Linked DNA regions of Homo sapiens. The protein of the gene in region 4 interacts with the protein of the main gene of each other region in a pairwise test. Each region holds a gene or a part of one and is shown on either strand. Other genes may lie near its edges. The genes, in order: ASAP3, OTUD4, CINP, REL, PRKAA2, NUDT10 and EXOSC8.

Region 1 (3,500 bases), on a different chromosome or scaffold from region 4:
CACCCAGGTCTGCCTGACTGAAGCTGTGCTCTTTCCCACTTACCACTCTGATGGGTGAGATCTGAGCAGATGTCAGAGGTGGGGTGGAGGGGAGTAACAGCTGGTCCTGGAGAAGAACTGGGGAATATGTTAGACAGGTGGGTTATAAGTGGCCCTTGGAGGGGTTCTCACCTGTGCATCAGGCCCTGGCAGCGGCTGTCCAAAGTCCTGCCCATTGGCAAAGGCCTCCAGTACCGACAGGAGGTCCCTGTTGCAAATGGCTGTCCAGAGTCGCTGAGGCTCAGGTGTGCACCGGCGTGCAAACCTATGCTCCACATACTTGGCCATAATGTAGTCCCTGCGGGTGCCCCTACCAAAAACAACCACAGGATCTCAGAGCATGGACCGTGTCTGCCCAGCTGATCCCTGGGGCCCTCCCACAGGAGATACAGCTCTCTTTTTCTCCAGAACCATGTCCTGAAGACGTCTAGATCTGAGGCTCCCCTCTCCCCAGGCTTTTTTTTTAGACAGTCTCACTCTATTGCCCAGGAGGGAGTGCAGTGGCGCAATCTCGTTTCACTACAACCTCTGCTTCCAGGGTTCAAGCAATTCTAGTGCCTCAACCTCCTGAGTAGCTGGAATTACAGGCGTGTGCCACCACGCCCAGCTAATTCTTGTATTTTGAGTACAGGCGGGGTTTTGCCATCTTAGCCGGGCTGGTCTCAAATTCCTGACCTCAAGTGATCCGCCCGCCTTGGCCTCCCAAAGTGCTGGGATTACAGGCGTGAGCCACTGCGCCCAGCCTCCCCAGACTTCTGATCCAAGACTTTTCTACGACCCTGGACACTGCGGAGGCAGAATCCCCTAGGCAGGGTGCCCCTCTCTCTGAGAATCCCCTTACATGTCACTCTCAGCTGAGGGTTTAGGGCCGCCGTGTGAGGGTAGCTGGGCCTCCATGACCTCATTGAAGCTCGTGTTTCCCATGTTCAAGGCCAGCTGGAGTCGTAGGAAAATAGACGTGGGGCGGAGTAAGACCGGGCGGTTAAGCCTGCATAGGGTGGAGCTCCAAGCCCCCAGAGTCCCGCCCCTCGGCCGCCCTCCCGGTTCAGGCCCCGCCCCTGACCACCCGCTACCTGGCTTGTCCCAGCCCACCTCGGCCAGGTCCCACCCACAACCTGCAAGCCCCGCCCCCGGATGAAACTACACCCCTAACTCCGCTTCTGGCCCCTTCCAGGCCCCGCCCCGCCCTCACCAACAACTCGGAGGGGCCCAGCAGGTCCAAGGTGAGTGACTGCATGCGCGAAAAGCGCACGCCCAGTTCGCGGTGGACGCCCGAGCACTGGATGCAGGTGAGCACGCCCAGGTTGGTGCTGAGCCACGTGGGGTCTGCAGAGGAAAGCAGCTGGAGCCTGGAGGTGCAGCCCCTCCCCTCCACTTAAGCCTCCCTCCTGCCCCGGCCCCGGGGACCGACCTGCAGCCCCGCAGTCGCAGCACTGGCTATTCCCAGGCCTGCTCTTCACCTCCGCGATGAGCAGCTTTGTGAGGTCGTGCGGCTCCCCATCATGGCCGGCGGACCCCCAGGACCCCGGGCCAGCGCTGGGCTCCCCGAGGAAGGCGCTGCTCAGGGCTTCGTCCTTGCTGTTCTGCAACACTGACACCCACCTGCGGAGATTGAACGGGGTGGGATGGGGATGTCAAGTGGGAAGAGATAGGGCCGCCGGCCCCCACCCACAAGGCTGGCCGGGCTGGCCGAGGGGGCACTCACGCCTCACACTCGTGCTCGTCCTCTGCCTGAAAGTGGTACGTCCGGTTGTCTGTCGGGAGAGAAGGGGGCTTCTGACCCACAGAAATGCTGCTGGCCTTCCCGGAGCCCAGGGAGCCCCCACCAAAGCCGCTGGGGCCACATGGAGATGTGTCCCTGACAAGTCGGACTCTCAAGCTAGGAGTGGGAAGGGAGTGGAATGACAGTGGCCAGCACCAGGGGCAGTTTCTCAGAACTGGCCTCCGAAGTAGGATCCCAACAAAGCTCCCTCTGCGTGAAGCCCTGGTTCCAGGCTCAGACGAGGTCTCAAAGGGCTTGGAACCCCAGAGAACCCAGCTCTGAGGCAGGGCATCCTCTGAACCAACTGTCACCACCCCACTGGGCCCTTCCTGGTCTCCTCCTGGGCGACCAGGCCTCCTGTCTGGTCTCCCTGCTTCCCATTTCCCCTTTCCCCTAGCCTGTACCAGCTCCCAACTGTTGTGCCCAAGGCTCTGCTCTAATTACACCACTGCCCTGCCCCAAGATCTCCCATGGCTCTCTATTGCCAGGAAATAAGGTCCAAACTTTTAAGAGGGATTTCCAGGCCTCATCTCTCACTCTGCTACATGAACCCTCCACTCTGGCCAAACCGGCCAGACCCACTCTCCTGCTTCCATGCCTTTCATCATGCTAATCCTGTCTCCTCAAAAGCCCCCACCCCACAAACTCTTCATTCTACATGTCCTTCAAGGCTAAACTCAAATACTGTCTCCTCCAGGAGCCTTTCCTGATTCCCCACAGCAGTGCAGGCCTTCCTGCTCCCTAATCTTCTATGGGGCTATATCTGCACCCATCTTCTGGACAGCCCCCTCATCTTACAGTCCTGGGTACCCACCCCACACCCCTGCCAGAGAGTTTCCTGAGGACAAGATCTAGGTCTTTCTCAGCCTGTGTCTGCTCTCACACAAAGCCTGCACCAAAGGCTCTGAAGAACGAAAAGTAGAAAATGTAAAGAAACAATAATTTCATCTCCTTCAAGTCTGGGTATTTGGGAAAAAAAGGTAAAATTTTAAAAAAAGAAATAATTTCAAAACCCAGATGACCCAAATCCACTCAAATATGCTCTGTATAAATAGCCACATTTATTATGTAAAGTGGGTGCATTTTGACATTTAATGTGATGTGGGTATCCTAGACCTAAGGATTCTTATGTCTGCAGTAGCAGCAATTCGACACCATGTGTGGAACTGGACACAGACCCCTCACTGAAGCCCCCCGGGAGCTGACAGGTGTCTTAGAGAAGCCCTGAGCAGCTGTGGGTGGGGGAGAGGCACAGGGACCACTCACGGGTCACCAGGTCGAAGCACTTTTTCTCCTCAGGGTTTGGCCTCACTTGGCACGTCAGCAGGGTCAGCTTCACCGGGGGCCGGTTTATCTGTGGGAATTTAGGGGCGGAGGATGTATGCATTACCTCTGGCCCTCCACATTCTTTAGGCCTCCATTTCCCACTCTGTTAAATGGGCATAATCATCCTGTTCCATTTGTGTTTCTCCTCACCCAGCAGCACCTCAAGGATGTGAAGTGTAGACTAAGACTAGATTGGGGCCTTCAGGTCCCATCTGTCCTCCCAAACGGGTCTCCAGCTCCCTGGACCTAGGTTTGGGGGCCAGTCTTAGAGGGAGGGCTTGACATTATTTGCTCAGAACACCAGAAGAAGAGGGTCCATCGTGCCCTGAGACTCCCACCACCTCTAGGCCTCACCGTGCTGTGTGAGATGGTC
Region 2 (3,500 bases), on a different chromosome or scaffold from region 4:
TCTGCCTCCTGGGTTCGAGCAATCCTCGTGCCTCAGACTCAAGAGTAGCTGGGACTCAGGCATGTGCCACCATGCCACTACTTTTAGTAGACACAGAGTTTTGCCATGTTGGCCAAGCTGGTCTTGAACTCTTCACCTCCCAAAGTACTGGGATTACAGGTGTGAGCCACCATGCCCAGACTGAATTTTTTTTCTTTTAATTTATAGGGAGTTACCCATCACAGAAACCACTATTAATCACAACACCCCCAATTCCCTGACCATGTCAGACAAAGCCCACTCTTAGTATGCAAGGGCCTTGTCCAGGTCATCTTTCCATCCCCCACAGCTCAGCGTCTTATCCATCATAGTAGCTTTCTAAATGTCCAAATAAATGCAAAACATAAAATAGCCTAGAAAACAACATAACTGAATATAACTAGATTAAGTTCAATAGAGAAGTTTTTTTAATAAGTGTTATTTTCATAACCCGCATTAAGATCCAGCCTGTGAAATTCTACTAGAACACTTCTAAAAGCCAAAATGTAAAACCAAGTCAAGACACCATTACATGTTTGAAATTACAAGTTACCGCTTCAAATTTCTCTCTGTTCTCTCGAAGATAGTGAATACAGGCCATTCTGACTTCAACATGGCGAGACTGAGAGTGCAATACCTAAAAAGAAAAGGCAACAAACACACTATTAAGCATTTAGTTAAAAGTTACAACCTAATGTCTTCTTTTACACCCAAAATAATCTGACAACCAATAGATTATCAGTCTTTCTCCATTTCCCTTTCTATAATTTCGATATCTTTACTCATTCCTACCTCTTCTTCTAACTAAGCACAGCGAAGACATGACATATACAAACAATACTACTTCTTAAGCCAAATTTGTAAAGAATTTATTAGCCTTTCTCCTTTAGGACATTTTTGTAAATTTAGGACACTCTCTTCCCTTGGCCTTCCCTCCACAATAACTTTACTCTTCACAAAGAAGAGCTAACAAAATCCATGCTACGCCACGCTCAACTTCATCCTATACATATTGAAAAAGACAAACTGGCAACTTCTGTAGGAATGTATTTTGAGGCTTTCAGCCTGTAAGAGGCCGATTTATTTTTCCCATTAATTCTGAATCCACTTAGAGGCTCTGTGTAAAAATTTAAGTCCACTATGGTTTCAGAAAAATTAAGGCACTCATTCTTTCCTTGGTGATCAAGCTTATAAGACAAGAAAGAACATCCAAGTAGGCAGCATAGGGGGTGCAAAAATGTTGTGTGGTATCATCCCAAGAGGTTTGGGGTTTGTTTTTATGCCCTAAATTGTAAAGTACCAACCTACAAAGTATGATCCAGATCCTCTCACTCTGCAGTTTACATTTTCTTCTATTAAACAACCAGTTCAACAAAAAGATAACTTACTGGCATGTGGTCTTTTACCAAAATTCTAAAGCTGTGAATTGAAACAACTATTTCTTTTTTTTTTTTTGAGACGGAGTCCTGCTCTGTCACCCAGGCTAGAGTGCAGTGGCGCAAGCTTGGCTCTCTGCAACCTTCACCTCCCAGGTTCAAGCGATCTTCCTGCCTCAGCCTCCTGAGTAGCTGGGATTACAGCCAACTACCACGGCGCTTGGCTAATTTTTGTATTTTTAGTAGAGACAGGGTTTCACCATCTTGGCCAGGCTGGTCTCAAACTCCTGACCTCGTGATCCGCCCACCTCGACCTCCCAATGTGCTGGGATTACAACAGGCATGAGCCACTGTGCCCAGCCTGAAACAACTATTTCTTATCCAATGCTTCCTTCTAGCTAGCTCCCAATTCTTTTTTCCCCCACCAGGCTGGAGTGCAGTGGTGCAATCTCAGCTCACCGCAACCTCCGCCTCACAAGTTCAAGCGATTCTCCTGCCTCAGCCTCCCGAGTAGCCGGATTACAGGAGCTGCCATGTCCGGCTAATTTTTCTTTCTTTCTTTTTTTTTTTTCCGGCTCATTTTTCTATTTTTAGTAGAGACAGGGTTTCACCATGTTGGGCAGGGTGGTCTCAAACTCCTGACCTCAGGTGATCTGCCCGCCTGGGCCTCTCAAAGTGCTGGGATTACAGACATGAGCCACCACGCCCGGCCCTAGCTCCCAATTATTTAACATGCTTAAAGGAGATTAAAATTCTTTTCTATTACTGGGTATCTCAAATAAAGATATTCCTGTACCGTAAAGGGTTATGGTTTAAAAAAAAAAAACTCAGACACACTTAAAGTAACACATTTCAAACTACCATCAAGGCCTCTTGAGAATTTATATTAATAGAAAGTATCTTTAAAAGTTACAGATCCTGGCCGGGCACTGTGGCTCACGCCTGTAATCCCAGCACTTTGGGAGGCCGAGGAGGGTGGGTCCCCTGAGGTCAGGAGTTTGAGACTAGCCTGGTCAACATGGTGAAAACCCCATCTCTACTAAAAAATACAAAAAAAAAAAAAAAATTAGCCAGGTGTGGTGGTGCGTGCCTGTAGTCCCAGCTACCTGGGAGGCTGAGGCAGGAGAATGGCTTGAAACCAGGAGGCAGAGGTTGCAGTGAGCCGAGATCGTGCCAGGGCACTCCAGCCTGAGTGACAGAGTAAGACTCTGTCTCAAAAAAAAAAAGTTACAGATCCAATTGAGTGGTTCTCCCTTTACGTTTAGCATGAGTAGAGCATTTGGGAAAAGGGAGGCTCCAGCTGTGCATTCTACAGCTCTCTTGGATCACAACCAAGGCTCATTTATACCCACAGAACCGGCACAACTGCCTGGACGCCTAGTATGTCCTATTACGCTGAGATACACTGAAAATGCACCTGTTGAGGTTAGCAATTAGTTTGTTTTCAGTGTAATAACTGGTTTTCAGTTTAACTGATTCTACCTTCACTGCTGTTCTTGGACACTATTAAACTATATTCTTATATATTCTAAGAGTATGTGACCAAAAAGGACTATCTATATATAAAAATAACCACCGTAGAATTTTTTTGCCAATTCAACAAATGACATTTAGCAACACTTCTTTCACAGAAGCTATGTTAGACACTATCATGAATCAAGGTATTACTCGTATGAATAAACCACAGTGTCATCTGATAGGGCTTTCCTCTGCCATTAGCAACGTGGAGCTAGTCTTAAAGCCATTTACCTAGCAACAGGTGGCAAACATAAGTTAGTAAAGCTTATTTTCAATCAAAAGCAATGGTAGGCATATCTACTGGTTCTTCTCTTTTAACAAAGATTTTGGCACATACAATCTATCTGAACCTGTTGCTCAGAAGCAAAACTCTTAGCAACTTCTATAAAGTGTGAGAGTGCTGGTAATTCACAAAGTCAAGCACTGCAAGAAAAGCAAGGTTAAATGACAACTGTCTAAAATGTAAATTATTGTGCAAGGTTGATAACACTTCGAAAGAATTAAAGTAGTATGACAAATATCTCTGCAAATTAATATATACATGAAAGCAAACTAGAAGGCTTTCCCATTTTTACTTGGGACAAGATA
Region 3 (2,554 bases), on a different chromosome or scaffold from region 4:
CTTAGACCCAAAGACCTGGAGGAATCCCAAGGCAGGCTCTTGCTGCCTTTTTTTTTTTTTCTTTTTTTTTTTGCGACAGGGTCTCATTCTGTGTGGCATGATCATGCCTTATGCAGCCTCAACCGCTGGCACCTCAGCCTCCCAAGTAGCTGGGATCACAGGTGTGCACCACCACACCCAGCTAATTTTTTTTAATTTGTGGAGACAGGGTCTCGTTATGTTGCCCAGGCTGGTCTCTAACTCCTGGGCTCCAGCAATCCTCCCGCCTCAGCCTCCCAAAGTGCTGGGATTATACAGGCATGCGCCACCGCGCCTGGCTGGCTCTTGCTGCTTTTAAGAAGTGAGAGAGAAAGGCATCAAATGAGCTCGTTTCTGATGCTCTCTCTCTCTCTCTTTTATCAAATGAGCTCGTTTCTGAGGCTCTCTGTCTCTCTATCAAATGAGCTCGTTTCTGATGTTCTCTCTCTCTCTCTTTTTTTTTTTTTTTTTTGAGACGGAGTCTTGCTCTGTTGCCAAGCTGGAGTGCAGTGCCAGGCTGGAGTGCAGTGGCGAGATCTCGGTTCACTACAACCTCTGATTCCCTGGTTCAAGCGATTCTCCTGCCTCAGCCTCCCAAGTAGCTGGGATTGCAGGCATGTGCCACCACGCCCAGCTAATTTGTGTATTTTTAGTAGAGACGGGGTTTCACCATGTTGGCCAGGCTGGTCTTGATCTCCTGAACTCGTGATCCGCCCACCTCGGCCGCCCAAAGTGCTGGGATTCTAGGCATGAGACACCGCACCAGGCCTGACTCTCTCTTATTAACTGCCTTTATTTACGGAAACCTCCTTGACTTCCTTGTTTATAAAATGGCAACACAGAAAGGGAGCCCTACACACTTCACGCAGAAAGGAAGGAAACGTGGCAAGCTGCCATTGACGGTCCCTCAGTGTGGACCAGGCTCTGTCCTAAGCCCTGTAACTGCATGATGTGTATGGCTACTTGTGGGAGACACTAAACCAACCCCACTGCACACACCAGGCAGCACAGAATAGGGGCAATGGCGGGCTTACTTTCACAGCTTGGTGAAGAGGATTAAGTGAGTTAGTATTTGTGAAGCACCTACTTGGAGATATATAAGGGTTGGATAAAGAAAATTAATGGGTGAAGTAACTAGGATTTCAGATTTAAGTAGCATAGGTCTATAAAGACCAAATTTTGAACTCCTAAGTATAGTTGACTTTACATACATAAATATGAAAAAGGGGAAATAAGAAAAGATATATAAATTGTCAAATATCTTAATTCCTTTACTTGGTCCTTCCAACCACCCTCCAATTACATTGGAAGTGGCAAGCACTAAATTCAGCTAACGTTAATTTTTAAAGGACTTTACTTAAGTAGTTTCCCAAATCTTTTAAGGTTTGATATTTTATTTGGCCCAACCCCAAGAGGCAGGACTTGTCATTTCCGTTTCACAGCTGGGAAATTGCTTAAGGTTGAGCTGAGGAAGGATGAGGCCAGAACTCGATACCATGCCTTCTGACACCAAGTTTTTTTGTTTTTGTTTTTGTTTTTGTTTTTTTTGAGACAGAGTCTCGCTTTGTCACCCAGGCTGGAGTGCAGTGGCGCGATCTCCGCTCACTGCAACCTCCGCCTCCCGGGTTCATGCCATTCTCCTGCCTCAGCCTCCCAAGTAGCTGGGACTACAGGCGCCCGCCACTGTGCCTGGCTAATTTTTTTGGTACTTTTAGCAGAGCTGGGGTTTCACTGTGTTAGCCAGGATGGTCTCGATCTCCTGACCTTGTGATCCGCCCACCTCAGCCTCCCAAAGTGTTGGGATTCCAGGCGTGAGCCACCGCGCCCAGCCGACACCAAGTTTTAACACCCAATCCTCTGCTCTTTCCTGTGAGTCCTGCAGCAGCTCCCTGGTGCCACCTGATTCTAAGAAAAGCTGATAACAGGAGACTAAGGAAAATTCTGGAGCCTTGACCCCAGGCAAGAAGTCATGCTCAATCCTGCAGCTCAGCCATCAATAAAGAATTCAAGTCACATAGGCACGTGCAGCCCTGAATGAACAGTGCATAAACAGCAGGCCCTTACATTTCAACATCGGTGGCTTCTTCCCACAGCAAACACAGACCACAGTGAAATGTTAGCCCAGCTTAGGAAGAACGGTGCATGAAACCCCCAGAAGGTCAAAGTTATGAAAGACACAGACCAGGTCTGGAAACCATTCTCTATAACGGATAGAGGAAAATAGGAAAAATAATAATACCCTATAAAATCAACTTTTGGTTTTGAACATAGAATGAGAACTTATTCCCAAACCACTTTTCTTTTTCTTTTTTTCTTTTTTTTGACACGGAGTCTCACTCTGTGGCCCAGACTGGAGTGCAGTGGCTTGATCTCGGCTAACTGCAACCTCCGAAAGTGATTCTCCCGCCTCAGCCTCCCAAGTAGCTGGGATTGCAGGCACCTGCCACCACCCCCAGCTAATTTTTTGTATTTTTAGTAGAGATGGGGTTTCACTATGTTGGCCATGCTGGTCTCAAACTCTTGACCTCAGGTGATC
Region 4 (3,500 bases):
CCTCCTAACATTAAATAACAAGACCGAAATGTTATCTTGGAGATTGGCTGGGAGAGGCACCTTTTTTTCCCATTCAAATTGAGTCCCTATGTAGTGTCAAAACAAGTCATTCAAACCATATTGACTGGTTAGCACTTTATAGCTTAATATCTATAGCTAACGTCAATATGAAGTTCTGAGATAACCACTTCAGAGATATCTGCCTCCCACGTGAGACCTAGCAGAAGGGTTTCCCCCAAGATTCCCCAAGAAGGGTAAAGAAGGCAGTATTCAGAAGTAAAATATCACACTCCTAAAGTGAGTTAAATATATTTAACTGCTTGATTTTACATCATATTCATAATACTGAATGAAAAGACCATTCACTGAAAATGAAAATGCATTTAAATCCTTGCAGAAGCATATGTAAGTTTTTTATATCTCCATTCAAATATTAAAGGACTTACACACAGTATATCAAAACAAGCCCCAGGAGGGACTTTAGGCTCAAAGAATGTGCAATCAGTCCCATGCAAACCTTTTCTAAAGACATAATAGAGAAAAAAAAGTATTCACTTTCTATAATAACTAAAATTCAAAATATGCATCTGCAGAATGAACTGCTGCTACATATAATAACATGGACGACTCTCAAAATGATTATGCTGAGTGAAAGAAGTTAGACCAGAAGAGCACATACTGTATGATTCCATTTATATGAAACCCTAGGATATGTAAAGTAATATACAATGAACGATAGCAGATCACTGGTTGCCTAAGAACAGGGATATATGGTGGATAGGAAAGGCAGGGGGGACATTATCTTGTGATGATGATTCCAGGGTTGTATACATATGTCAAAACTTGTCAAATTGCATACTTTAAAAGTACAGTTTGTTGTACATAAATTATATGTCAATAAAGCTATTTAAAATGTATGCAACTTTACTTTTATTATCCAAATTGTGGGGGAAAAGGTAAATAGACACTCAACTGTACTTGCAAGTAGGGGAGTTAATAGGGGTGTGAAGATGTTTTCCATTAAAAAATAATAATAATGTGTCCCTTAATCACTTTAGTGCTGACTAAGGCTTATCCTGTTAGAACGCAAGCAATCCTGAGAAATGGTAACACAGTGGGCCTTATCAGAACAGTATGGAGAAGAGGCCTTTAGAATCCTACCCCAGCTACTTCTTAACAGTAAGACCAAGGAAATGTGATTAAAATTAAAAATCTCTTAGTTTCCTCCTCTGTAAAATAGGAATAATCATAATAGCACCTACCTCATTGGGTTGTTGTGAAGATGACAGATTATATGTGCTAAATTCTTACGAAGTGTCATATATACATACACATTCAATAAATGTTGTCTACGTGAAAAAATGCTCATCATCACTGGCCATCAGAGAAATGCAAATCAAAACCACAATGAGATACCATCTTACACCAGTTAGAATGGCGATCATTAAAAAGTCAGGAAACAACAGGTGCTGGAGAGGATGTGAAGAAATAGGAACACTTTTACACAGTTGGTGGGACTGTAAGCTAGTTCAACCATTGTGGAAGTCAGTGTGGCGATTCCTCAGGGATCTAGAACTAGAAATACCATTTTACCCAGCCATCCCATTACTGGGTATATACCCAAAAGATTATAAATCATGCTGCTATAAAGACACATGCACAAGTATGTTTATTGCGGCACTCTTCACAATAGCAAAGACTTGGAACCAACCCAAATGTCCAACAATGATAGACTGGATTAAGAAAATGTGGCACATATACACCATGGAATACTATGCAGCCATAAAAAAGGATAAGCTCATGTCCTTTGTAGGGACATAGATGAAGCTGGAAACTATCGTGAGGACAAAAAAACCAAACACCGCATGTTCTCACTCATGGGTGGGAATTGATCAATGAGAACACATGGACACAGGAAGGGGAACATCACACACCAGGGCCTGTTGTGGGGTGGGGGAAGGGGGGAGGGAAAGCATTAGGAGATATACCTAATGTTAAATGACAAGTTAATGGGTGCAGCACACCAACATGGCACATGTATACATATGTAACAAAGCCGCACGATGTGTACATGTACCCTAAAACTTAAAGTGTAAAAAAATAAAAAATAAAAAAAAATGGTGTCTATTATTTCAGATGCTTTCTTGAAAACAATGATTTAGTGATACTATGGTGGTATCCCAACTGTCACTCTAAAGGACCTTATAGAAGAGCAAGGCAAACAACATATATTATTAGACTACAGAAGGAAGGAAAGCACTAACAAAATTCTGCGGAAATAAGAGCGAAAGAGTCAGGAATGCCCAACTGTGTCAGTGGAAAAAGAGCGGTTAATGAAGCAAAAGAGCGGAGGAAATGAAGAGGAAAAAGGTAGGTATTCTAGGGAAAAGGGAACAGTGTGTCCACAGAGGAGGGTTTATTTAAGAATCACCAATGTAAATGGAACACACTTTCTCTCTTAAAAAGAGAACTAAAAGTCAGAGCACACTTGGCAATGTGGATTTCATTTTATGTGTGATGAAATCAATGAATATTTTGATGCAGGCAAATCACATGATCAGATTTGCATTTTAGAGTAAAAGTTTTAGTCACAGTGAACAGATAGAAAAAAGAAAGCAATGTCATCAGTTTAGAGACCACTATAATAATGTGGGCAATGATGAGGGTATCTCTGATATATGGCAGTGATAAGATGAATGAAGGATTATTTAAAAGATAAAATTGACAGCACCTGGTGCCTGAACAGTAGGGTTAAGAGAAATTAAAGAATCACTGATAGCTCAGAAATTAAAGAATCATTGATGATTCCATGGCTTCTACTTTGGGTTACTGAATAAAGTATTACTGTAACTTTCAATTTTATTCTGTATGGTGTAAACTCCCTGTGTTTGAATCTACTACCTATTTGTTTATTCAGAAGATGAAGAGCCAGAGAAAACTGACTTTAACCTAAACAAGTTCATAATCCTTATTTCAGTTTTACTCAAAAACATAAGATATGCAGATGAGTATTTCACGATTTTATCCTTGCATATTTTAAAGATTTCAAATTCACATTGCAATTTCAAATATTTCATACCCTTATATATCCTTGTAGGAGTATTTAAGAAAGTATATTTTCCTCTTAAAAACTGTTAAAATCAACATTACTTTTTAAGTCACATTTTAAATAATTTATGTGGCTGAAGTAAAGGCCAAATAAATCCCTGCCCACTACTTATTTAAAGGTGTCTTGGTGGGAAACTGATATAAAATGACATCGTTAATGATAAGTGTTTAACTTTGGGAAGAGAGAGTGTGAATAAAACTGCTAGGTTCATAGTGAGCATTCAAATATTTCACTGAGGCTGGGCATGGTGGCTCATACCTGTAATCCCAGCACTTTGGGAGGCCAAAGTGGGTGGATCACTTGAGGTCAGGAGTTCCAGACCAGCCTGGAAAACATGGTGAAACCCCATCTCTACTAAAAATACAAAAAATTAGCGGGATGTGGTGGCAGG
Region 5 (3,500 bases), on a different chromosome or scaffold from region 4:
AACGACTCACACTTGTAATCCCAGCACTTTGGGAGGGCAAGGTGGGTGGATTGCTTGAGCCCAGAAGTTCAAGACCAGCCTGGGCAACATGGCAAAACTCCATTTCTACTAAAAATAAAAAAATTAAAAAAAATTAGCTGGGTGTGGTGGCTTGTGCCTATAGTCCCAGCTACTCAGGAGCCTGGGGTGGGAGGAACACCTCAGCTTGGGAGGTTGAGGCTACCTACAGTGAGCTGTGATCACACCACTGCACTCCAGCCTGGGCGACAGAGTGAGACCCTGCCTTAAAAAAAAAAAAAAATTCTTTGCTGGCTAATGATGAAAAGGGGAAAGAGTTCTGGAAAGATGTCAAAAGAACATGTTTGTAAACAAACACGGATGAAATCTTAGGTAAGAAGAAAAAACCTCTAAGAAACATGCCTTGATAAGTCATAGGCAGGATGCAGTGAATCATCTTGCTACTATACACAGGTGTGGGATATACAAAGGTCATATTCATAGGCGCATCAGCAATGGCACTTTCCAAACTTTCTCAAGTGACAAAAAAGCCTTCACAGTAAGCTGACTAGCAGCTATTGAATTCAAAAACTTAGCAAAACTTTTTATGCTTTATGTCTTTAACCATATGTAAAATACAAAATCTCACCCTATTTCTCCATTTGAAATTTCTTCAGACACTTTCTAAGCATACCATCTTTCCAGGCCTTTTAGCATTGTGTAGTCAAAGATGAATAAGACACACTCTCTACCCTGATATCATAATTTAAGAGAGAAAAAAGACACACTGAGAAATAACTAGATACAGGATGAGGATTAAATAATAAAAGCATGAACAAAATGTTGATAAAACAGAAATGGAAGCACGTGTGGAAATCACAAAAGGGGTGGCATGAACTTTAATGGATGAATGGAAGTCTATCAGGTCAAAAAAGAAACAAGAAAAGACATCAAGGCAAAGTGAATAATATAAACAAAGACATGAAGGCATAAAATCTATGTTAGGTTTGAGAAACAAGGACAAGTTCAATGTGGCTGAAGCATGAGTACTGGGGTGAGGTGGTGAGGGCAGGAAATGAGACTTTGGGAGAATCATTTAATTAACATTATTATTCCTATGAGAAAATATGCAGAACAGAAACAAAAAGAAAAATCACCTTATGTCTTTGATAGTTGCTCGTTTCAGTGGGTCAACCTGCAGCATATGCATCAGGAGAGTGGCGACAGAACGATTGAGATATTCTGGGATATAAAAGACACCCCCTCGGATCTTCTTAAATAACGTAGGTACATGCTCATCATCAAATGGGAGGGTGCCACAAAGAAGAGCATACAAGATAACACCACAGCTCCAGATATCAACTTCAGGACCTGCATACAATCTAAGAAAAAAGATGACAACACAAACCTGAAATGCAAGAATCACTTTTTCTCTATGTACCCTACTTCTATATATAGGTAGTCTACATTCAGTACATATTCATTTCCAAGGTCTTTAATGAAGTCCATGGCTGCTCCCCAATATTCAGTGTTTGTTCCCCAAAGAGAGTAATGGGGCTAGCCAACTACTATTCAAGCCTGCCAAGTGAATAGGGTATTTTTATTTGTCACAAATTCATTTAACTGAAACATACGAATTAAAACATATAATACTTTCTGTGGTTGATTTTTGAGGGAAACAAAGTAGATGACCACAAACTTGAAAAAATACTATGGTGTATAGGTTAAATCTTTTTCCCAAAGAACTATTACAAGAAAGAAAACATATATATAATGTATACATATAATAGAATTTCTACCCCTGGCACACCTTTAAAGAATATTAAGGCTGGTCACGGTAGCTCACACCTGTAATCCTAGTACTTTGGGAGGCTGAGGCGGGCGGATTGCTTGAGGCTACGAGTTTGAGGCCAGCCTGGGCAACATGGTGAAACGCTGTTTCTACTAAAAATACAAAAAATAGCCAGGGATGGTGGTGCACATCTTAGTCCCAGCTACTCAGAAGGCTGAGGTGGGAGGATCATCTGAGCCCAGGAGGTGGTACAGTGAGCTGAGATTGTGCCACTGCACTCTAGCCTAGGTGACAGAGCGAGACTCTATCTCAAAACAAAAAATATATATATATATATATATAATATATCATATATATAGAGAGAGAGATATTTAAAACATTAAAGTACTTAATTAGTACTGTGTAGACAGTATTTATCCTGTATCACATTATCCTGAGTACTTACTATTTCTATTCTCATCACTTCCTAACTCATATGACTAAAATCATCTTTGATCCAGATAACCTATGCTTATAGTATTATTCCTTTTTTCTCTTACGTTTCTACAGCATTACAATTCCCATGATAGCATATTACCATACTCAAACCTGGGTCTGAGGTAACAAAGTAAATCTTTACTATTCTAATGAAAAGAATATAATCTGTTTATATAAAAAATGGTGATTGTTTACATCATTTGCTGTATTGTTCAAACTCCTTGCAATGGACTGAATGCTTATGTCCTCTCAAAATTCATGTGTTGAAATCCTAACCCCCAAGGAGATAGTATTAGGAGGTGGGGACTTAAGGGGGGTGATTAGGTCACTAGTGCAGAGTTCTCATGAATGGGATTAGTGCCCTTATAAGAGCGACCCCAGAGAGATCCCTTGTCCCTTTCACCATGTGAAGTTACAGTGAGCATACAGTAGTCTATTAGGAAGCAGACCCTCACCAGATACCAAATCTTGATCTTGGACTTCCCAGACTTCAGAACTGTGAGAAATACATTTCTGTTGTTTATAAGCTATCACCTTTATTGTATCTTTCTTATAGCAGCCCAAATGGACTAAGATAATTCTTTATCTGCTATTTGCAATAATACTTTAACCATATTTTCTCTTATAGGATTCTGTTAACTTTTAAAATCACACGTTGATCACTGTAGAAAGACTTGAGTTTACCACTGCAATCTGTATAAACATTTTTATAATGTACCAATGAATAAGTTATGAGTAACTACACAATCTCTACTTGTGTAATTTCATGAAACAATATTTTCCCCCAAAATCTCATTTTTCCAAACACAAAATATAAAACAATGCTCTATATACTTTGGAAAATATGCAAGGTATTATTAAAGAACTATATCTAATAAATAAATGACACTAGCTTAAATTTAGCAAATTCTTACTCTCTTATCTGCACTTTTGTAAAATGAAAGATATGTTAAATCAGGATCTACTTCAGTTATTTTTCTAATGGGGAAAACTTCGTAAGTATATTTATAATGACATCTAAATGAAATGTTTAACATTTTTTGATATAACCATTATCCCTTTAACAGTGGAAAAATAAATGAATAATCCATTTCTACCATGTTAAAATCTTACCTTCCATAGAGAATATATTGTAATTAAATGTTATCAAAATGAACACAAGATTACAAAAAGCTTATGCTTCACTGATTATTACCTGCCTGAGATGACTTCAGGTGCTGCATAATTTGGAGAT
Region 6 (4,294 bases), on a different chromosome or scaffold from region 4:
TGAAGCAGCCCTGCCCTGTGGCCGGAGCCTGGATTGGCCCCTCTCGAACCCAGACACCCCACTAGTCTGCTAGTTTTGCTAGAGTGTCTCGTGATTCATTCAAATCATGTTTCAAAGCTCTGAGTAGAAGTTCAACCATTTTGTACTACTAAGTCCTAACCACATTTTTAGGACCCCTTAGTATTTTATTTGTTTTGTGGTGGTTAATAGTACACTTTGGGAGGCCGAGGTGGGCGGATCGCGAGGTTAGGAGTTCAAGAGCAGCCTGACCAACATGGTGAAACCCGTCTCTTCTAAAGCTACAAAAATTAGCCAGGCGTGATGGCACCCGCCTGTAATCCCAGCTACTCAGGAGGCTGAGGCAGGAGGATCGCTTGAACCCAGGAGGCGAAGGTTGCAGTGAGCTAAGATCGTGCCACGGCACTCCAGCCTGGGCGACAGAGCGACAGAGTGAGACTCCATCTCAAAAAATAAAATAAAATAAAATTGTGAAATAGGACGGGATCTCCATGTGCATGGTTTCCCAAACACCAAGTGGTGCTTATCAAAGAGAAAGATAGAGAAGGGTGGAGTGTGTGGAGAATAGGAGAACGTCTCTGGGCTTTAACGCAGGACTACTAGATGGGTGGTGCTCTGGTCTTTAAGGTGTACTGCATCGAAGTGCAAATGGCTGCAACACGGAGGCGAGGAGTGTACCCATGAGGAAACTGAGGTGCAGGGAGGTCAGGCAGGTTGTGAACAGGGGTTTAAGAAAAGCGTTAAATTACTGGCTGCGCCAAGATGCTCTGCAAGGTGGGAACCTGTTGAAGAAATAAAACTGCATCATGTGACTCAGCAAAGATGCCCGGCTACTGTGCCAAGAATCCCGTGGGTTGTGCAGACAACACTAGGGCCCAGGTCCCATGAGTAAGCCAGAATGGTTGATAGTGGGGGAGGATGATGACGACGCTGCCTTTGCCCCTGTCTTGTGTGAAACAACTGCCTGTGGGTTTCCTGCAGCGCAGTGGGGAGTGAGAGGAGAAACGTCCTGCCGTGCCACAGTGAGTTTGGGTCAAAGGCACACATGGAGGCAGTCTTGGCCAAAGTCACAATGCGGTGAATTTCGCTGTGCGCCAAGGAGGTTCCTGGCCCCAGGAGTGCGAAGCGCCTGCGCAGTGGGCCCCAGGCGTTGCGCGCTGCGGGAGCCAGGAGACCCCCGCCCCTGGCCCCTCGCCCCGGTTCCTCGCCCCTCAGCCCACGCCCTCCCCTGCGAACGCGCACGTGAACGGGAGCGCGGACGCGCCCGAGAATGCGCTTCACCTCGCAGAAGCGGGTGGGCTCTGTGGAGAGTCGCGGGCTCGCGGGCAGCAGCGCCTCCTCCACTCCGGCGGGCCCGGGTTCGGCCGGCCGCCCATCGGACTGGCGGACTGGCTGACTGACACGCCTCGCTTGCCCCCGCCTCCGCCCGTGCCCCGCCCAGCTTCATCTCTCCCTCCGCTCCCCGGGCTCGGGGGCAGACGGCAGACGGAGGCGCCTCTCTCTCCCCGCCCCTCTCCTCGGCCCTTTCTCTTCCCAGCACCTCGGCTGCTGCCCGGCAGCGGCAGCAGCTGCGTCGGCGGCCCACACAGCAGCGAGAGGCGAGAGGAGGCTGCCTCGAGGATGAAGTGCAAACCCAACCAGACACGGACCTACGACCCCGAGGGGTTCAAGAAGCGGGCGGCGTGCCTGTGCTTCCGGAGCGAGCGCGAGGACGAGGTCCTGTTAGTGAGTAGCAGCCGGTACCCGGACCGCTGGATCGTGCCGGGCGGGGGCATGGAGCCCGAGGAGGAGCCGGGCGGTGCGGCGGTCCGAGAGGTGTACGAAGAGGCGGGAGTCAAGGGGAAGTTAGGCCGGCTCCTGGGCGTCTTCGAACAGAACCAGGACCCCAAGCACAGAACGTACGTGTATGTACTGACTGTCACGGAGCTGCTGGAGGATTGGGAAGATTCGGTTAGCATTGGGAGGAAGCGAGAGTGGTTCAAAGTCGAAGATGCCATCAAGGTTCTCCAGTGCCACAAGCCCGTGCACGCCGAATATCTGGAGAAACTAAAGCTGGGCGGTTCCCCAACCAATGGAAACTCCATGGCCCCATCCTCGCCAGATAGCGATCCCTAGTATGTACCGCTTGCGCCCGCACAGACTTCTGTTTGTCTGCCTTGCTTAAAATGCATCCCGCCTGGAGCACCTCTCGTACCATGTGCGGTCTCATGGGCAGGAGGGAGGCTTTTGTTTCCTTGGCAGACCCTCTGAATCACGCTTGCAAACTGTTGCCAGGCCCTGTTTTCAGTTGGCACGTTTTTCAGTTGCTTTCAAAATCGCTTCTTGGTTACCCTGTAAAATGTTTCGGAGAAGCCTATGCCGCTTGGGGTTTTAGGTGCTGTAACTGTTCACCCTGCTTTTGGGCGGGGGGGGGGGGGGTGGGGGGCGAGGGGTGGGCGGGGAGTGTGTGTGTCTGCCTGTGCGCCCTGTGATGTTTTTGGTTCTTTTATATTTCACACATATTCGTGGGTGCGTGCACATTTTTGATACCAGCCTTGTGGTTTGTTTGGTAGTGGAGGCCTTTAAAGTCTGACCAGCTTGGTTGTGTGGCATCTTTTAGTATTTTTTTCCCTTGAGTTGTTTTCTCCTTCACAGCGTTCGCCCTTGTTGTCAGGGAGGCCTTCTGTGGTGGGAGTTGGTTTAAAAAATCAGTTTTGAATTCGTAAAAACATTAGGAAATCCTACATCTTGTGCTCTTTCTGCACTCGACAGTCGCTCTAGCCTCTGAAGTGGTATCTCATTTGCCCCTTTCAGAAATTTCTTTTTCTATTTCTATGTAGGTCATTTGGTTTTCAAAAAATTTTCACAAGTAATTTTTCACTGCTGACTTTAAATCGCTATTTCCCATGTAGATTAACCTTACTGAATAGATGCTGCTGGGGATCTGCTAGCCAAACGCATCTGATCAGAAAAACTGTATTCACAGAATTTGATTTCCCATACTCAACTTCCAACTCCCATTGCCCCTTACTGGATACCATAGAAGAACCATGGTTCTCTGGATTTAAGTTTGTTTTTGAAAGAAAGTGGTTTCCATTCCATATTTGAATGTAGTGACATTCCGCTTAACCTCCCTGACTCCCAGTAACCACAGGAATGGAATCTTTTGTGGTGATTACATCCCAACAGAGTTAGCTCTAGCGATGTTCAGCTGGTACAGAATTGTCAAACTATTAGGATTCCTGAACAATCTCTCAATGATAGAGAGTAATTGTTTTGTCTCACAGTACCACCTTTTCTGGGTGCCAAATTAAAAGCTCTCACGTTTGCCTCAGTACTTGCTTGAAGTCAGGAATCCCATCTAGAATAGCTAAATCTCTCTTCTGGACCTTCCGCTGTTCCCCCAGCCATGTCTGACATTAGGTAGAAGGAAAACCTATTTTGTGAAGAGGGTATTCGAATGAAAAGATCATTCCTAATTTCTAGAGCAACCTAGACTATGTCATATCTCTTAAACATTATTGACAGGTATTGGGGTCCCTTAACTTTTTTTTTTGAGATGGAGTCTTGTTCTATGGGTCACTGTTACGCACTTTCTATTAAGAAATTTTGGGTTTCGCTATGTAAATTCTAGGTTCCTCTTCTGGATTTCATCTCCCATGACAGTTGAGGAAATGTCTAGTTTTTGAAGAGAGTATGGGTGGGGGCTGGGGGACCGGGCGCGGTGGCTCACGCCTGTAATCCCAGCACTTTGGAAGGCCGAGGCGGGCAGATAACGAGGTTAGGAGATCAAGATCAGCCTGGCCAGCATGGTGAAACCCCGTCTCTACTAAAAATACAAAAACTAGCTGGGCATCGTGGTGTGCGCCTGTAATCCCAGCTACTCGGGAGGCTGAGGTAGGAGAATCGCTTGATCCCGGGAGGCGGAGGTTGCAGCGAGCCGAGATCGTGCCACTGCACTCCAGCCTGGGCGACCGTCTCAAAAAAAAAAAAAAAAAAAAAAGACTGATTTTCCCCCTCGTCCCTGTCCCCCAATGGACAAGTGCCTACTTTTTCTTATTCTAAAAAAAATTTGAAGACGACATGTTGGAGTAAAGGTAAGTTTGGTTGCTTGATACAGAATTTGCTCTGGATGGTTAACATATTTTCTAAGAAACCTATGTTCTGTTGATCAGGTCACCTTTGAAAGAAGTAACCCTGAAAGGGGTGAAAGGTGGCCATAAATATTTTTAAGTCCTGTAGAAAATTGATAAAAATTGAAGTGTGTATGTGTAAGAGCTTGTAAAGAAACAGCAAC
Region 7 (3,164 bases), on a different chromosome or scaffold from region 4:
AAATTAAAGTCTTCTAATGGGTAGAACATGCTATTAGCTTAGACTTAAGAACCACAGAACCCTTGGTTAAACAAGCAAGATAACTTTCAAGGCTCAAAAACCTTAAGAAAATGCTTCACCTTTTTAAAGTTCTATAGAAAACCAGAAGAAAGTGGACAGGTTTTGTGAAAGCTGGCTTTTGATTGCCAGGCTGACAAATGACAAACATGTCCATTTCCCTTAATGGAGCTACAGATGTAGAAGGAATTTCCATTCTCATTGGGAGGTTACAGATAAGGGAGATGGTTTTGAAAGCCCTAGCTAAAATTCAAAATGCACGTTCTCATAATACATGAAATGTTTAAGTTTTACAGTGCTAATGTATCAGTTTATATGATCTAGTAGGAAAGCCTCTCTAGGTTCTAATCAACCTAGTTTTACATTTTCAAATAGACTTTGGAATCTACTGTGTGGATTCACCATAAACATATGTTAACATGATTAATGTTATAATCTGCTATAAGGAATAAAAAATGATTGAACTTTAAAAGTTAAGGGGGAAAAAAATTACTTCAGTTTAAAAGGTAGCTCCCAGACAGGCAGTAAGTTAGTCAAACTTGTTTTTTTATAAACAATATGGTTCATTTAGAGAATTATAGAGTAAGAAATTACTGAATCTCTAAAATCTGTAAGACATCCATATTTAAAGCTACTTTGATTGGTGGTTTTAATTTCCTTGTTCACTTTCCCCCACAAAAAAAAAATCCCTTCAGAATTAATAAGAACTTATAGCTTCTCTATTCCTCTTACCTTTCCTGGAGAAATGCATAAGTCCTCTTTCTGAATTATCTGTGAACTTGATTTAATGACAAAGAGCAAAGTAAATGAAAAGCCCAAAACTATCTGAAAATGAATTGTAATAAAATTTTATCATGGTGCTCTTACTTTTCAATGACATCTGCAATGAACTGGCTAGCCACTTGGGCCTCTTCTCCAGGAGGTCCAGACCGGAATCTCGATGAACACAGGGGTGGTAGATCCACATTAGGAACTGAAAGAAACACTCTGCAGCTATGAACTAAACCTTTTTTTTTTTTTTTTTTTTTTTGAGATGGAGTCTTGCTCTGTTGCCAGGCTGGAGTGCATTGGTGCGATCTCAGCTTACTGCAACCTCTACCTCCCAGGTTCAAGAGATTTCCTTGCCTCAGCCTCCCAAGTAGCTGAGATTACAGGCACACGCCACCACGCCCGGCTAATTTTTTGTATTTTAGTAGACAGGGTTTTACCATATTGGCCAAGATGGTCTCGATCGCCTGACCTCGTGATCCGCCCGCCTCAGCCTCGCAAAGTGCTGAGGTTACAGGTGTGAGCCACCATGCCCGGCCTAAACTTTTCAATTTATGGATTACTGAAGTGTTAAAGGTATTATCAATCCACAGTAAAGGCAACTGTGGCCATGGACAGGCTCTTCTGAGTAGAATACATTGTAACATTATAGTTATATTCTGTTTGGTCTCTCTAAGACTCCCAGCCATGAAATTTCTATTTTTCTGACATTTTTCCCCCATATGCCTTTTTAAAAAATCTATTTTAGACCTCAATTCTAAATCCTTTACGAGTTTTCCTGGTATCTTTCAAAATACCTCAATCTGTAACTGAAGTATATATAGCCCCTCTGCTAACATCCAACTGTTTTTCTCATTTAAAAAAAATGTTGGTTCCTACCATAAAGAACAGATGGTTCCAAGGCAAGAAAAAAATAGCAGTTGTATAAAGCAAAGAATCTTTATGGAAACAAAAGGTGTGCAATGACAGTTCTTTGACTTAAAAAAATTCCATTCTATTTTTTTTTTCTTTTGAAACAGGGTTTCACTCTGTCACTCAGGCTTGAATGCAGTGACACAATTATAGTTCATTGTAGCCTCAACCTCCCAGGCTCAAGCAATCCTCCTGCTTCAGCCTCCCAAGTAGCTGGGACACAGGTGTGCACTGGCACACCCAGCTAACTTGATTTTTTTTGTAGATACGGGGTCTCCTTTGTTTCCCAGGCTGGTCTTGAACTGCTGGGCTGAAGCGATCCTGCTGTCTTGGCCTCCCAAAATCCTGGTATTATAGGTGTGAGTCACCACACCCAGCCAAAATTCTATTTTCTTGGTTAGTAACTTATGAATGTATAAACAAAAATTGAGCAAACAAGTTTGATAAAGGTTAAATTTATGAAATTCTATATCCTGCTATTATGCTATCTTTTACTAACACACGGAAAACTTTTGAGGAATTTGTTTTATTCATAAATATTTCCGAATATTAGGAATAATTTTCTTTACATCAACTTAACTAGGACTTAACTAAAAATTATTAAATGTGTTAAAAGTATTTGTATTAAAATTACAAAACCATTTAACTTACCAACGTATCCTTTATCAGGGGCATCTGTTGATGGTGCTGCAAATTCCTATAGTAGCAAAGAAATGTTTCCTATTGAAAGAAGCTACTGAAAAATTATGAAGACAATTTAGCAATCAGTTATGGAAGGCTCTATCAAATATCAGCTTAGGGAATTGTGTCAGGGCCTCTACGGACATTGGTGCTGATCCTCACAATAGCTCTACAAGATAAGAAGGCACTACAGTACAGTGGACTACACTACAGTGCTGCTCGGCAAGATTACCTGGAGATCTTTTAAAAAATAGTAACTGGGTTTGTGCCCCCAACTACTAGCCAAGAATCTTAATTTGTTCTCCAGATGATAGAGCAAGATTTAGGAACTGCTGCTTTAGTGGTAAAGAGCAAAAGCTCAGCTGGGCGCGGTGGCTCACACCGGTAATCCCAGCACTTTGGGACACAGAGGCGGGCGGATCACCTGAGGTCAGGAGTTTGAGACCAGCCTGGCCAAGATGGCAAAACCCCGTCTCTACTAAAAATACAAAAATTAGCCAGGCATGGTGGCGGGCGCCTGTAATCCCAGCTACTTGGGAGGCTGAGGCAGGAGAATCACTTCAACCCAGGAGACGGAACTTGCAGTGAGCTGACATCGTGCCACTGCACTCCAGCCTGGGCGACAGAGCAAGACTCCGTCTCAAAAAAAAAAAAAAAAGCAAATGCTCTGCAATTACTAAGCCAGTTCAAATGTCAGAGCCATACTTACTGGCTGAGAGACTTCAGGCAAGTTATTTAACCTCTTA

The links.
Region 1: the proteins of REL (region 4) and ASAP3 interact in binary tests that used the Homo sapiens proteins (3 or more experiments, as listed by UniProt).
Region 2: the proteins of REL (region 4) and OTUD4 interact in binary tests that used the Homo sapiens proteins (3 or more experiments, as listed by UniProt).
Region 3: the proteins of REL (region 4) and CINP interact in binary tests that used the Homo sapiens proteins (3 or more experiments, as listed by UniProt).
Region 5: the proteins of REL (region 4) and PRKAA2 interact in binary tests that used the Homo sapiens proteins (3 or more experiments, as listed by UniProt).
Region 6: the proteins of REL (region 4) and NUDT10 interact in binary tests that used the Homo sapiens proteins (3 or more experiments, as listed by UniProt).
Region 7: the proteins of REL (region 4) and EXOSC8 interact in binary tests that used the Homo sapiens proteins (3 or more experiments, as listed by UniProt).

What each region holds. Positions count from the first base shown.
Region 1 is NC_000001.11:23,435,680-23,439,179, forward strand, and holds part of ASAP3 (arf-GAP with SH3 domain, ANK repeat and PH domain-containing protein 3), read right to left. Parts: coding exon 3,482-3,500; intron 3,156-3,481; coding exon 3,068-3,155; intron 1,794-3,067; coding exon 1,745-1,793; intron 1,642-1,744; coding exon 1,451-1,641; intron 1,366-1,450; coding exon 1,232-1,365; intron 976-1,231; coding exon 881-975; intron 350-880; coding exon 172-349; intron 1-171. UniProt on the Homo sapiens protein: Promotes cell proliferation.
Region 2 is NC_000004.12:145,174,090-145,177,589, forward strand, and holds part of OTUD4 (OTU domain-containing protein 4), read right to left. Parts: intron 656-3,500; coding exon 572-655; coding exon of another isoform or gene 551-571; intron 1-550.
Region 3 is NC_000014.9:102,350,337-102,352,890, forward strand, and holds part of CINP (cyclin-dependent kinase 2-interacting protein), read right to left. Parts: intron 1-2,554. UniProt on the Homo sapiens protein: Component of the DNA replication complex, which interacts with two kinases, CDK2 and CDC7, thereby providing a functional and physical link between CDK2 and CDC7 during firing of the origins of replication.
Region 4 is NC_000002.12:60,888,074-60,891,573, reverse strand, and holds part of REL (proto-oncogene c-Rel), read right to left. Parts: intron 1-3,500. UniProt on the Homo sapiens protein: Proto-oncogene that may play a role in differentiation and lymphopoiesis.
Region 5 is NC_000001.11:56,693,814-56,697,313, reverse strand, and holds part of PRKAA2 (5'-AMP-activated protein kinase catalytic subunit alpha-2), read right to left. Parts: coding exon 3,462-3,500; intron 1,380-3,461; coding exon 1,155-1,379; intron 1-1,154. UniProt on the Homo sapiens protein: Catalytic subunit of AMP-activated protein kinase (AMPK), an energy sensor protein kinase that plays a key role in regulating cellular energy metabolism.
Region 6 is NC_000023.11:51,331,328-51,335,621, forward strand, and holds the start of NUDT10 (diphosphoinositol polyphosphate phosphohydrolase 3-alpha), read left to right. Parts: upstream 1-1,494; 5' UTR 1,495-1,638; coding exon 1,639-2,132; intron 2,133-4,294. UniProt on the Homo sapiens protein: Cleaves a beta-phosphate from the diphosphate groups in PP-InsP5 (diphosphoinositol pentakisphosphate), suggesting that it may play a role in signal transduction.
Region 7 is NC_000013.11:37,003,786-37,006,949, reverse strand, and holds part of EXOSC8 (exosome complex component RRP43), read right to left. Parts: intron 2,435-3,164; coding exon 2,389-2,434; intron 1,031-2,388; coding exon 925-1,030; intron 836-924; coding exon 790-835; intron 1-789. UniProt on the Homo sapiens protein: Non-catalytic component of the RNA exosome complex which has 3'->5' exoribonuclease activity and participates in a multitude of cellular RNA processing and degradation events.